Regions from separate parts of the Homo sapiens genome. Here region 2 is linked to region 1. The links come from fine-mapping of genetic effects on gene expression. A gene starts in region 1. The other region holds a variant in brackets. All regions are shown on one strand. Distances are from middle to middle.

Region 1 (5,000 bases):
CCATGTGTCAAGGGCTCCATAACCGCATGTGGCTGGTGGCTACTGTTCGGACAGCAGAGCTGTAAACTTCCCACGACCCTGTCCCTAGTCCCCATCTCCCCTGCATGGCTCATGCTCACCCAGATGCTGGATCCTCACAGCTTCTCCACCAGTCCACAATGCAGCAGCCAAATCCTTATCTTTTTTCTTTTCTTTTTCTTTTTTTTTTGAGATGAGATCTCACTCTGTTGCCATGGTTGGAGTGCAGTGGTGTCATCTCTGCTCACTGAAACCTCCACCTCCCAGGCTCAAGTGATCCTCCCACCTCAGCCTCCCGAGTAGCTGGGACCACTGGCATGCACCACCACACCCAGCTAATTTTTTGTATTTTCAGTAGAGATGGAGTTTCACCATGTTGGCCAGGCCGGTCTTGAACTCCTGGACTCAAGTGATTCACCTGCCTCAGCCTCCCAAAGTGCTGGGATTATAGGCGTGAGCCACGGCTCCCAGGCAAAATTCTTATCTTAAACACAGGTTTGGTCATGTCCCTCTCAGGTGGCTCCCCATCCCTCTCAGGATGCCTGGCTGCTGAGGCCCTGCCTCTCTTGCTTCCTCCTCTCCCCTCTCCATCCCCAAGGCCCCCACTCTCTGGCTGTTCAGGATTATTTGCAGATCCTCCACACAATAGTGCTCCTCACCTCTAAGCCCTCACACATGGCTCCCTCTGCATGGAATATCCTTGGAACACTTCTTGGGCTAACCTTTCAGGTCACTCATTCATTCAACAAATGTATTGAGGGCCAGATGCAGTGGCTTACGCCTATAATCCAGAGCTTTAGGGGGCCAAGGCCGGAGGATCGCTTGAGGCTAGGAGTTCAAGACCAGCCTAACATAGCAAGATCTTGTCTCTACAAAAAATATAAAAATCAGCCAGGCGTGGGGGTGCATGCCTGTAGTCCCAGCTCCTCAGCAGGCTGAGGTGAGAGGATGGCTTGAGCCCAGGAGTTTGAGTTTGCAGTGAGTGATGATCGTGCCACTGCACTCCAGCTTGGGCAACAGAGCGAGACCCTGACTCAAAAAAAAAAAAAAATTAGTGAGCACCTACTGTCAGACATGATCCTAGGTCCTGTAGCAAAGCAATACGTAATGAGAAAATAGACATAACAAGAAAATATGCAGCACAGCAGATGGTGAGCAGTGAAGCAGGCAGAGGGAAAGCTGGTGTGGGGTTACTACTTTAAGCAGGATGGTCAGATAAGGCTTCATGGAGTAGGTGACTTGTGAGGAGAGAGCTGAAGTGAGCGGGGGGCCAGGTGGCTTTCTAGGGGGAGAGCACTCCAGGCAGAGGGAACAGCCAGGGCAAAGGCCCTGAGGAGGGAGCCCACCCAGGGGAACTGGAACATGTTCCAGTGTTACTGGAGCAGAGTGAGGGAGGAAGTCATGGGAACCAAGGTCAGAGAGGGCCAGAGGTGTGGGGAAGATCTCGCAGGGGCTTGTAAGACCTTGGGTTTTACCCTGAGTGCAGTGGGAGTGTGGCAGCTGCTGAGCGGGGAGGGACATGAGCTGCTTTGGGTTTGAACAGGACCCCCTGGCTGCCTGGCTGATGAGAATAGCCAGGGGCGAGGCGGGGAGCAGGGAGCCCAGTGTTGACACTGGCTGGATCAAGGTGACAGTTGAGGAGTGGAGAGAAGGGGCTGAATTCAGGCTATACTGAAGGCAGGACCAACAGGATTTTCCAGATGGGTCAGATACAGAGTGTGAGAAAGCAAAGTGTCAAGATCTGGGGGCTGAGCTTAGGGTATGGAAGACCCCTCTTCAGGAAGTCCTCCTGGGGAGCCCACAGCTCCTGGGCCTTGCCTGTTTCCCTCCAAGGCTGGGGGCTCCCGTGGTAGGACTTGTTTCCTGTCCTGCTGCCACAGTGCTGGATAAGTGAGAGGTGAGAGGTGGAGGCAAGCTGAGCTGGGGCCCTGCCCTCGGCTGTGTGAGGTCTGACACTGCTCCTCTCACCTCTCTAGGGACCTGTGTTTTCCCACTTGCACAAGGCGAGTGGGTGCTCTCCAAAAGTACTTCTAGCTGTAACCCAGTTTCCTCCCTAGGAGTGGGCACTGCCAGTCTCCTGAGCCCCCAGGCCCTCTCTCCTGCTCCCTGCCCAACCTCAGCCTCCTGGGAGCATTGGAATATCTTCCTTCCCCTCTGGGACGCGCAGGGCAGGTTGGGACACGTGGCTGGGGCCTGAGTCAGCCTCACCAATGTGGGTGGAGGGGGTACCTGGGACACGTCCCCTCCTTCCTTCCCAGAGCTTGGTACAGCCAAGGGTGGCACAGCTGCCCCCATTTCACTGTCTCCTGGAGTCTGAAGGCATGGCTGTGGCCCTGAGGCAGGACCAGGCATGTAGCTGCCCCACCTGCCCCTCCGCAGTGTTGTAGGGAAGAGTCAAGTCAGACAGGAAGGCCTGGGGCTGATAGCACCAGCAGGAAGGAATGCCATCCCAGTGAGCGAGTGGGGCCCAGGGACAACGTCACGGTAGTCCCGCCCTCCTTGCTGTCACAGGTGCAGCCTGTCCTCTCCTTCCCCTGACCAGCCCAGCATCCACATAGTCTACACAGAGCTCCCCTTGCTGCCCAGACAAGCTGAAGGACCACAGGTAATGGGACATGGGGCTGGGTGAGCAGTGGGGTGGAGTGTCAGCTTTTAAGGAAATCGGGAGAAAGAGTGTCCTCAATAGGCTTGATATTGTGTGGTTCCTTGGTGGACCTGGGTTTGAGTCCCAGCTCTGCATCTTCCTAGCTGTGTGAGAACCTGTCTCTACTTCAGGGGAGGATGACAAATATTCACCTTCCTGGGTTGTGTTGAGGTTTCCACCCGCCTATACTTGGCCATGGTAGGTGACCAGCTCCCAATTCTGTCACCAACTTGCTGCAAGACTTTCAGAAAAACCCTTGACCTTTCTGAGCCTCAGTTTCCCTACTTGTAAAATGAAGGGTCCAGCTAGATCTCTGAAGGCACCTCACACCCTCACTGTTATGGAACCTAACAGCTTAGGAGGGGAGGGGTGTTCCCGCAAATGTCTCAGCCTCTGCACCACCATCAGTGACTACAGGCAGCTGCCCCTCTCTCTGCCCTTCCTGGAGGAAGCCACCCTGGGCTGCCAGCCAGGTTTGGGAGACTTGGAAGGAAGAAGTCAGCCGTCCTCTGCCTCCAGCTCAAAGGCACCCCCGGGGAGGATATGCCAGAGAGCTGGGCCATGGGGAGGGGGCCCTGCTGCCTGTTGGGGGCTCAGGCACAGGTGGTGTGGCCCAAGGGGAGGGGGGCTTGGCAGACCTCTCAGAGCTCCCCCCACCCACCCCCGTAGGCTGTCATCCTTGTCCTAGAGCCACCTCTGCTCAGAGCACCCTGGCTTTTAGGCCTCAAGCCAACCTAGTTTCCTTTTAAGGGGAATGAGAATGATTATGGTCTTGTGCTTATTATTTTCTTCTGTTTTGTTAAGAAACTGCCCAGAAGAGTTCAGAGCCCTAACTAAGGAGTCAGGAGTGTGTGTTAGTGGGAGTGGTGGGGAGTGAACTCAAGCTAGTGTAGCCCTAAAGCACCAGGTTACTTTTGCTGGGAAATCCTCCTTGTGAAAAGGATCAGAGAGAGAGAGATCTCAAGTGCTGGCTGCACGTCAGGGACCATGCTGGGCCTGCCCTGCTCCCTGCCTTATTTCACTTTCACAACAATCCTGTGGGTGGAGTCTTTCCTTTTTCTTTCTTTCTTTTTTTTTTTTTTAAATAACAGATTTACTGAGATGTAATTCACTACTATAAAATTCACCCTTTAAAAGTGTATAATTCAGGGCCAGGCGCCATGGCTCACCTATGTAATCCCATTACTTTGGGAGGCTGAGGCGGGTGGATCACTTTGAGGTCAGGAGTTCGAGACCAGCCTGGCCAACATGGTAAAACCCCGTCTCTACTAAAAATACAAAAATTAGCCAGGCATGGTGATGCGCACCTGTAATTCCAGCTTTTCCATTTTTGGCTGTTATGTGTAATGCTGCTATAAACATTCATTACAAGTCTTTGTTCGGATATAGGTTGTCAATTCTCTTGCGAATATACTAGGGATTGGAATTGCTGGGTCATGTAGTAAATCTTTTTTAACCTTTTGAGGAGCTGACAAACTGTTTTCCAAAGTGACCACCATTTTACAATCTGACCAGCAATGTATGAGGGCTCCAGTTTCTTCGTACCCTCACCAATACTTGTTAGTGTCTGTATGTCTTATGGTAAGCCACCCTAGTGGGTGTGAAGGGGTATCCCATGGTGGTTTTGATTTGCACTTCCCTAATGACTAATGATGTGGAGCATCTTTTTTTTTTTTTTTTTTGAGACGGAGTTTCAGTCTTGTTGCCCAGGCTGGAGTGCAATGGTGCGATCTCAGCTCACCACAACCTCTGCCTCCTGGGTTCAAGTGATTCTCCTGCCTCAGCCTCCCGAGTAGCTGGGATTACAGGCACCTGCCACCATGCCCAGCTAATTTTGTATTTTTAGAAGAGATGGGGTTTCTCCATGTTGGCCAGCCTGGTCTCGAACTCCCGACCTCAGGTGATCCGCCCGCCTCAGCCTCCCAAAGTGCTGGGATTACAGACATGAGCCACCGCACCCAGTGATGTGAAGCATCTTTCTATGTGCTATTGACTATTTCTGTGTCTTCTTTCGAGAAATGTCTATTCGAATCCTCTGTCCGTTTTTAAACTGGATTATTTGTCACTGTATGTTGAGTTGTAGGCATGCCCATTTTTCCAACTAAGGATTCTGAAGCTCTGAGAATGGATGTGACACGCTCCAGGTCTCAGAGTCAGTGAGGGGTAGAGGCGGGAACTGAAGATCTAGGTCTGTCTGATGTTCAAGAGAACTGACAAGCTCTTGTGCTGGATGCTACCTTTTTGTTTCTTATTGTCAGTTGTGTGTGTGTATGTGTGTGTGTGAGAGAGAGAGTGTGTATATGTGTGGTGTGTGTTGTGAGAGACAGAGTGTGTGTGT
Region 2 (5,463 bases), 30 kb after region 1:
ACGAAAACCACACCAGGTGCTTTAACAGAAAGAATTTAATAGAGGGACATGTTAACCAGGTGCAGGACTACTAGAAACGCAGAAAGGGACCATAGTATCACAAAGTGTAACTGAGGGAACTGCCTAGGGCTAGAGAGAAAAAGGAAAGAGGTTGTAGCTATTAGAAGTGAGAGGCCGGGGCCAGGTGTGGTGGCTCACACATGTAATCCCAGCACTTTGAGAGGCCGAGATGGGCGGATCACAAGGTCAGGAGATCAAGACCATCCTGGCTAACATGATGAAACCCCATCTCTACTAAAAATACAAAAAATTAGCCCGGCGTGGTGGCGGGTGCCTGTAGTCCCAGCTACTTGGGAAGCTGAGGCAGGAGAATGTCATGAACCCGGGAGGCAGAGCTTGCAGTGAGCTGAGATCGCACCACTGCACTCCAGCCTGGGAGACAAAGCAAGACTCTGTCTCAAAAAAAAAAAAGAAGTGAGAGGCTGGGTGCGGTGGCTCAGTCTATAATCCCAACACTTTGGGAGGCCAAGGTGGGCAGATCACCTGAGGTCAGGAGTTCGAGACCAGCCTGGCCAACATGGTGAAACCCTATCTCTACTAAAAATGCAAAAATTAGCCAGGCTTGGTGGCGGGCACCTGTAATCCCAGCTACTTGGGAGGCTGATGCAGGAGAATCACTTGAACCTGGGAGGTAGAGGCTGCAGTGAGCCGAGATCATGCCACTACACTCCAGCCTGGGCAACAGAGCAAGACTCCGTCTCAGTAAATAAATAAATAAATAAATAGCCGAGCGCAGTGGCTCATGCCTGTAATCCCAGCAGCACTTTGGGAGGCCGAGGCGGGTGGATCACGAGGTCAGGAGATGGAGACCATCCCGGCTAACACGGTGAAACCCTGTCTCTACTAAAAATACAAAAAATTAGCCGGGCGTGGTGGCGGGCACCTGTGGTCCCAGCTACTCGGGAGGCTGAGGCAGGAGAATGGCATGAACCTGGGAGGCAGAGCTTGCAGTGAGCCGAGATAGCGCCACTACACTCCAGCCTGGGCGACAGAGCAAGACTCTGTCTCAATAAATAAATAAATAAATAAATAAATAAATAAATAAATAAATAAAGTGTGAGAAGATTGAGAGAGGGTCCTCCAGAGCTGGGACCCAGACCTCTGGGGAAAGGGCACTGCTTAGCTGGGGAGGTGTCTCTGAGGGGCCTGAGGAGGCTGGTTCTGCAAGTGCAAGACCATTGGGGTCAGACCTCCAGTTTCTTAGCAGAAGCCCCAAATCTAGAGTTTGGCAACTATTTTTTTTTTTTTTTAAATTTCCACTTCTGCTATGGAAAAGAGTATAGTGATTCCTCAAAGAACTAAAAATAGAATTACCATATGATCCAGCAGTTCTACTTCTGCACATATGCCCAAAGGGGACTTGAAGGGATCTCTGTACACACATTTTCAAAGCAGCATTATTTCCAGTAGCCAGAAAGGGGAAGCACAAGCGTCCATCAATGGGCGAATGAATAAACAAAGCATGGTATATTATCAGTTTTTAAAAAAGGAAATTATTTGAGACTTCACAAAAAAATAAAAACCAAAGGGGGAAAATATGGAAATTCTAGCCAGGCATACTGGCTCATGCCAGTAATGTCAGCACTTTGGGAGGCTGAGGTAGGAGGATCACTTGACCCCAGGAGTTCAAGACCAGGCTGGGCAACACGGCAAAACCCCATCTCTGCAAAACATAAAAACATTAGCCAAGCGTGGTGGCACATGCCTGTGGTCCCAGCTACTTAGGTGACTAAGGTGGGAGGATCACTTGAGCCCAGGAAGTGGAGGCTGCAGTGAACCATGATCATGCCACTGCACTCCAGCCTGGGTGGCTGAGTAAGACTCTGTCTCTAAGAAAAAAATAAAAATAAAAAAAAAGAAATTGTGACACATGCTACCACACAGATAAACCTTGAGAACATTATGTTAAAAGGACAAATACAGTTATGATTCCATATATATGAGGTACCTAGAGTAATCAGATTCATAGAGACAGAAAGTGGAATGGTGGGTGCCAGAGGCTGCGGGACGGGGAATGAGAGTTAGTGTTTAATGGGGACAGAGTGTCAGTTTGGGAAGATGAAAACAGCCCTAGATATGGATGGTTGTGATAATTGCACAACACTGTGAAAGTATTTAACGCCACTGAACTGTACACTTAAAAATGGTTATGGTGGTTAATTTTATGTCTATTTTACCACTTTTTTTTTTTTTTGAGACAGAGTTTTGCTCTGTCGCCCAGGCTGTAGTGCAATGGCCCCATCTCGGCTCACTGCAACCTCCGCCTCGCAGGTTCAAGCGATTCTCCTGCCTCAGCTTCCTGGGTAGCTGGGACTACAGGCACGTGCCACCATGCCTGGCTAATTTTTTGCAGTTTTAGTAGAGATGGGGTTTCACCCTGTTAGCCAGGATGGTCTCGATCTCCTGACCTCGTGATCCACCCGCCTCAGCCTCCCAAAGTGCTGGGATTACAGGCGTGAGCCACCATGCCCGGCCACTTTTTTTTTTTTTTGAGATGGAGTCTCACTCTGTTGCCCAGGCTGGAGTGCAGTGGCACGATTGCAACCTCTGCCTCCCAGACTTGAGGGATTCTCCTGCCTCAGCCTCCCAAGTAGCTGGGACTACAGGCACCTGCCACCATACCTGGAATTTTTTTTTTTTTTTTTTTTTTTTTTTAGTAGAGACAGGATTTCACCATATTGACCAGGCTAATCTTGAAGTCTTGACCTCAAGTGATCCGCCCACCTTGGCCTCTCAAAGTGCTGGGATTATAGGCGTGAGCCACTGCACCCAGACCACTTTTTT[A/T]AAAAAAAAAAAATTCAAATTATCAGTGGTTAAATAAAACTGGATCAGGCCTGCGGCCCACAAGCTTACAGCTGCTTTGTGGAAGGCTTTTTATCATGTCAAGCTAAAGGCGGGAGCTAAAAGTGGTGCACGCAGGGGTCTGGTTACACCTCAGGCATCAAGTGCATTCCTGGAGCCCCAGTCCAACGTGTGGGCTAAAAATAAAGCATTGAATCTTGAGCCCAGGAAGGCAGCGTTGAAAAGTGGAGGGGTGAGGAGGAGGTTATGTGGAAGGGGATGGGCTTTGGTCTTTGGCTGTCCTGGATGCTGTGTGCTAGATTTCTGCTTTGATCACAGTGGAGGGAGGGTGAGAGTACAGATTTCAAAACCATACAAGCCAGCTTGTGCCGGGAAGATTTTTTTTAATTCAATTTCAACTTCTGCTATGGAAAACAGTATAGTGATTCCTCAAAGAACTAAAAATAGAATTACCACGTGATCCAGCAGTTCTACTTCTGCACATATGCCCAAAGGGGACTTGAAGGGATATCTGTACACCCATTTTCAAAGCAGAATTATTTCCAGTAGCCAAAAAGGGGAAGCACAAGTGTCCATCAATGGGTGAATGAATAAACAAAGCATGGTATATTATCAGCTTTTAAACTAATACTTCTGCACATACGCTTCTGCGCATATGCCCAAAAGGGACTTGAAGGGACATCTGTCCCTTCAAGAGAAGTCCGAGAGGACTGTGGCGGTTGTTTATCCTGTTCTCCCGACACAGCCCCTGGAATCTTCTGTCTACTCTAGAGGATCTGGGCCTGTACCAGAGATGGAGCGAAGGGACGCTGCTGACTAAACCTAGGAAGCTGAGGGAAGCACTTAACACTGGAGCTGGGAGATGTAGGGAAGGGCTATCCAGGCAGAGGTCACAGCATGGGCAAAGGCGTGGAGGAATAAAAGAGGATAGCACGGCCGGGCGCGGTGGCTCACGCCTGTAATCCCAGCACTTTGGGAGGCCAAGGCGGGTGGATCACTGAGGTCAGGAGTTCAAGACCAGCCTGGCCAACATGGTGAAACCCTGTCTCAACTAAAAATAGACAAAAATTAGCTGGACGTGGTGGTGGACGCCTGTAATCCCAGCTACTTCGGGAGGCTGAGGCAGGAGAATCACTTGCACCCGGGAGGCAGAGGTTGCAGTGTGCCAAGATGGCATCACTGCACTCCAGCCTGGGCAACAAGAGCGAAACTCTGTCAAAAAAAAAAAAAAAAAAAGAGGATAGCACGTCTCAGAGCAACAAGGGGTCAGCCCAGTGTAGTTGAGGCATCCAAGATCTGAGTAGGGCCGAGGACAGGTGGGCAACAGAGCACAGAGGTTAATTGCTCCCCTCCCCCAGCAGGACCTTGATACCTGAGATAAAGAGCTGAGACACTAGCCTAAGGACCATAAGGACAACAGGGAGCCTTGGAGGGAGTTCGAGCAGAAAAATGGCATAGTGAGACTGCACTTCAGAAAGATCACTGCACTCCTCTGGTAGCCCTGTGGGGGCTGTGGAGGGATGAGAATGAGCCTCACAGGCCTCCAACTCTAGGGATCCTAATTGACCAAGCACTGCTGTACTCTGTTTGCAGCAAGGACACAGTTCCCTTGAGATGCCCCCACCTGATGACTTTGCCAAGAGTGGGATGCTAAGGCAGGCCCATTCCTAGGAGACATGGGATTTCTCTGAGCTGACTTTGGCTTAAGGACTCCCCGACACCCTGCCAAACCCTCCTTAGACTGCATGGCCAACTAGGACCCTTCTACCCAACCCTCTTTCCCTCTCTTCCTCACCTGGGGCTGGACTTACATCCCAACCCTCCCAGCTCCCTCCCCGTTTCCCTGCTACACGTGTTTTCTTTAATAAAATCCTAGCACAATTTAATCTTATCCTGGTATTTGCTTCTTGGAGGACTCAGACTAATGGGGTGAGATTAGAGGCAGGGGGGACCGGTGGCCACAGGAAAAGATAGGAAGGGTAAACTTGAAGACATTCCAAAGGTCTAATCCACAGTATGACTTGAGGTGTGTGCTCACCATCAGCCCCCTGGGCTTTCCCAGTGGCTGGAGTTCCTAACACTCAGCAGAGTAATTGCCTATTTCTTTTTTTTGAGCCAACTTTCATTCTTGTCTCCCAGGCTGGAGTGCAATGGCACAATCTCGGCTTACTGCAACCTCCGCCTCCCAGGTTCAAGCGATTCTTCTGCCTCAGCCTCCTGAGTAGCTGAGATTACAGGCACATGCCACCACACCCAGCTAATTTTTTTGTATTTTTAGTAGAGACAGGATTTCACCATGTTGGCCAGGCTGGTTTCAAACTCCCGGCCTCAAGTGATCTGCCCGCCTCAGCCTCCCAAAGTGCTGGGATTACAGGCATAAGCCACCACGCCCAGCTAATTTTTGTGTATTTTTAGTAGAGATGGGGTTTCACCATGTTGGCCAGGCCAAAGATCGTGCCACTGCACTCCAGCCTGGGCGACAGAGCAAGACTCTGTCAAAAAAAAAAAAAAAAAAAAAAAATTAAAAGAATTGAAAATAGGGACTCAAAGAGGTACTTGTACACCAATGTTCATAGCATCAGTGTTTATGATAGCCAAAAA

The links. PIP is the estimated chance that this variant, and not a neighbour inherited with it, causes the effect.
Region 2: its variant is the best candidate, but not a certain one, in a credible set for the expression of TMEM40 in whole blood (TOPMed, PIP 0.58).

Annotation. Positions count from the first base shown.
Region 1 is chr3:12,756,814-12,761,813 of GRCh38, reverse strand. TMEM40 (transmembrane protein 40) reads left to right here and starts at 2,555. Exons shown (of 12, transcript NM_018306.4): 1 at 2,555-2,623. RefSeq lists a silencer at 1,853-1,942 and enhancers at 1,967-2,552, 3,508-3,687.
Region 2 is chr3:12,727,041-12,732,503 of GRCh38, reverse strand. No RefSeq gene overlaps it. Among named protein-coding and RNA genes, the nearest start is that of TMEM40, 29 kb to the left of the region's middle. The variant A/T (reference allele first, on the strand shown) is at 2,845.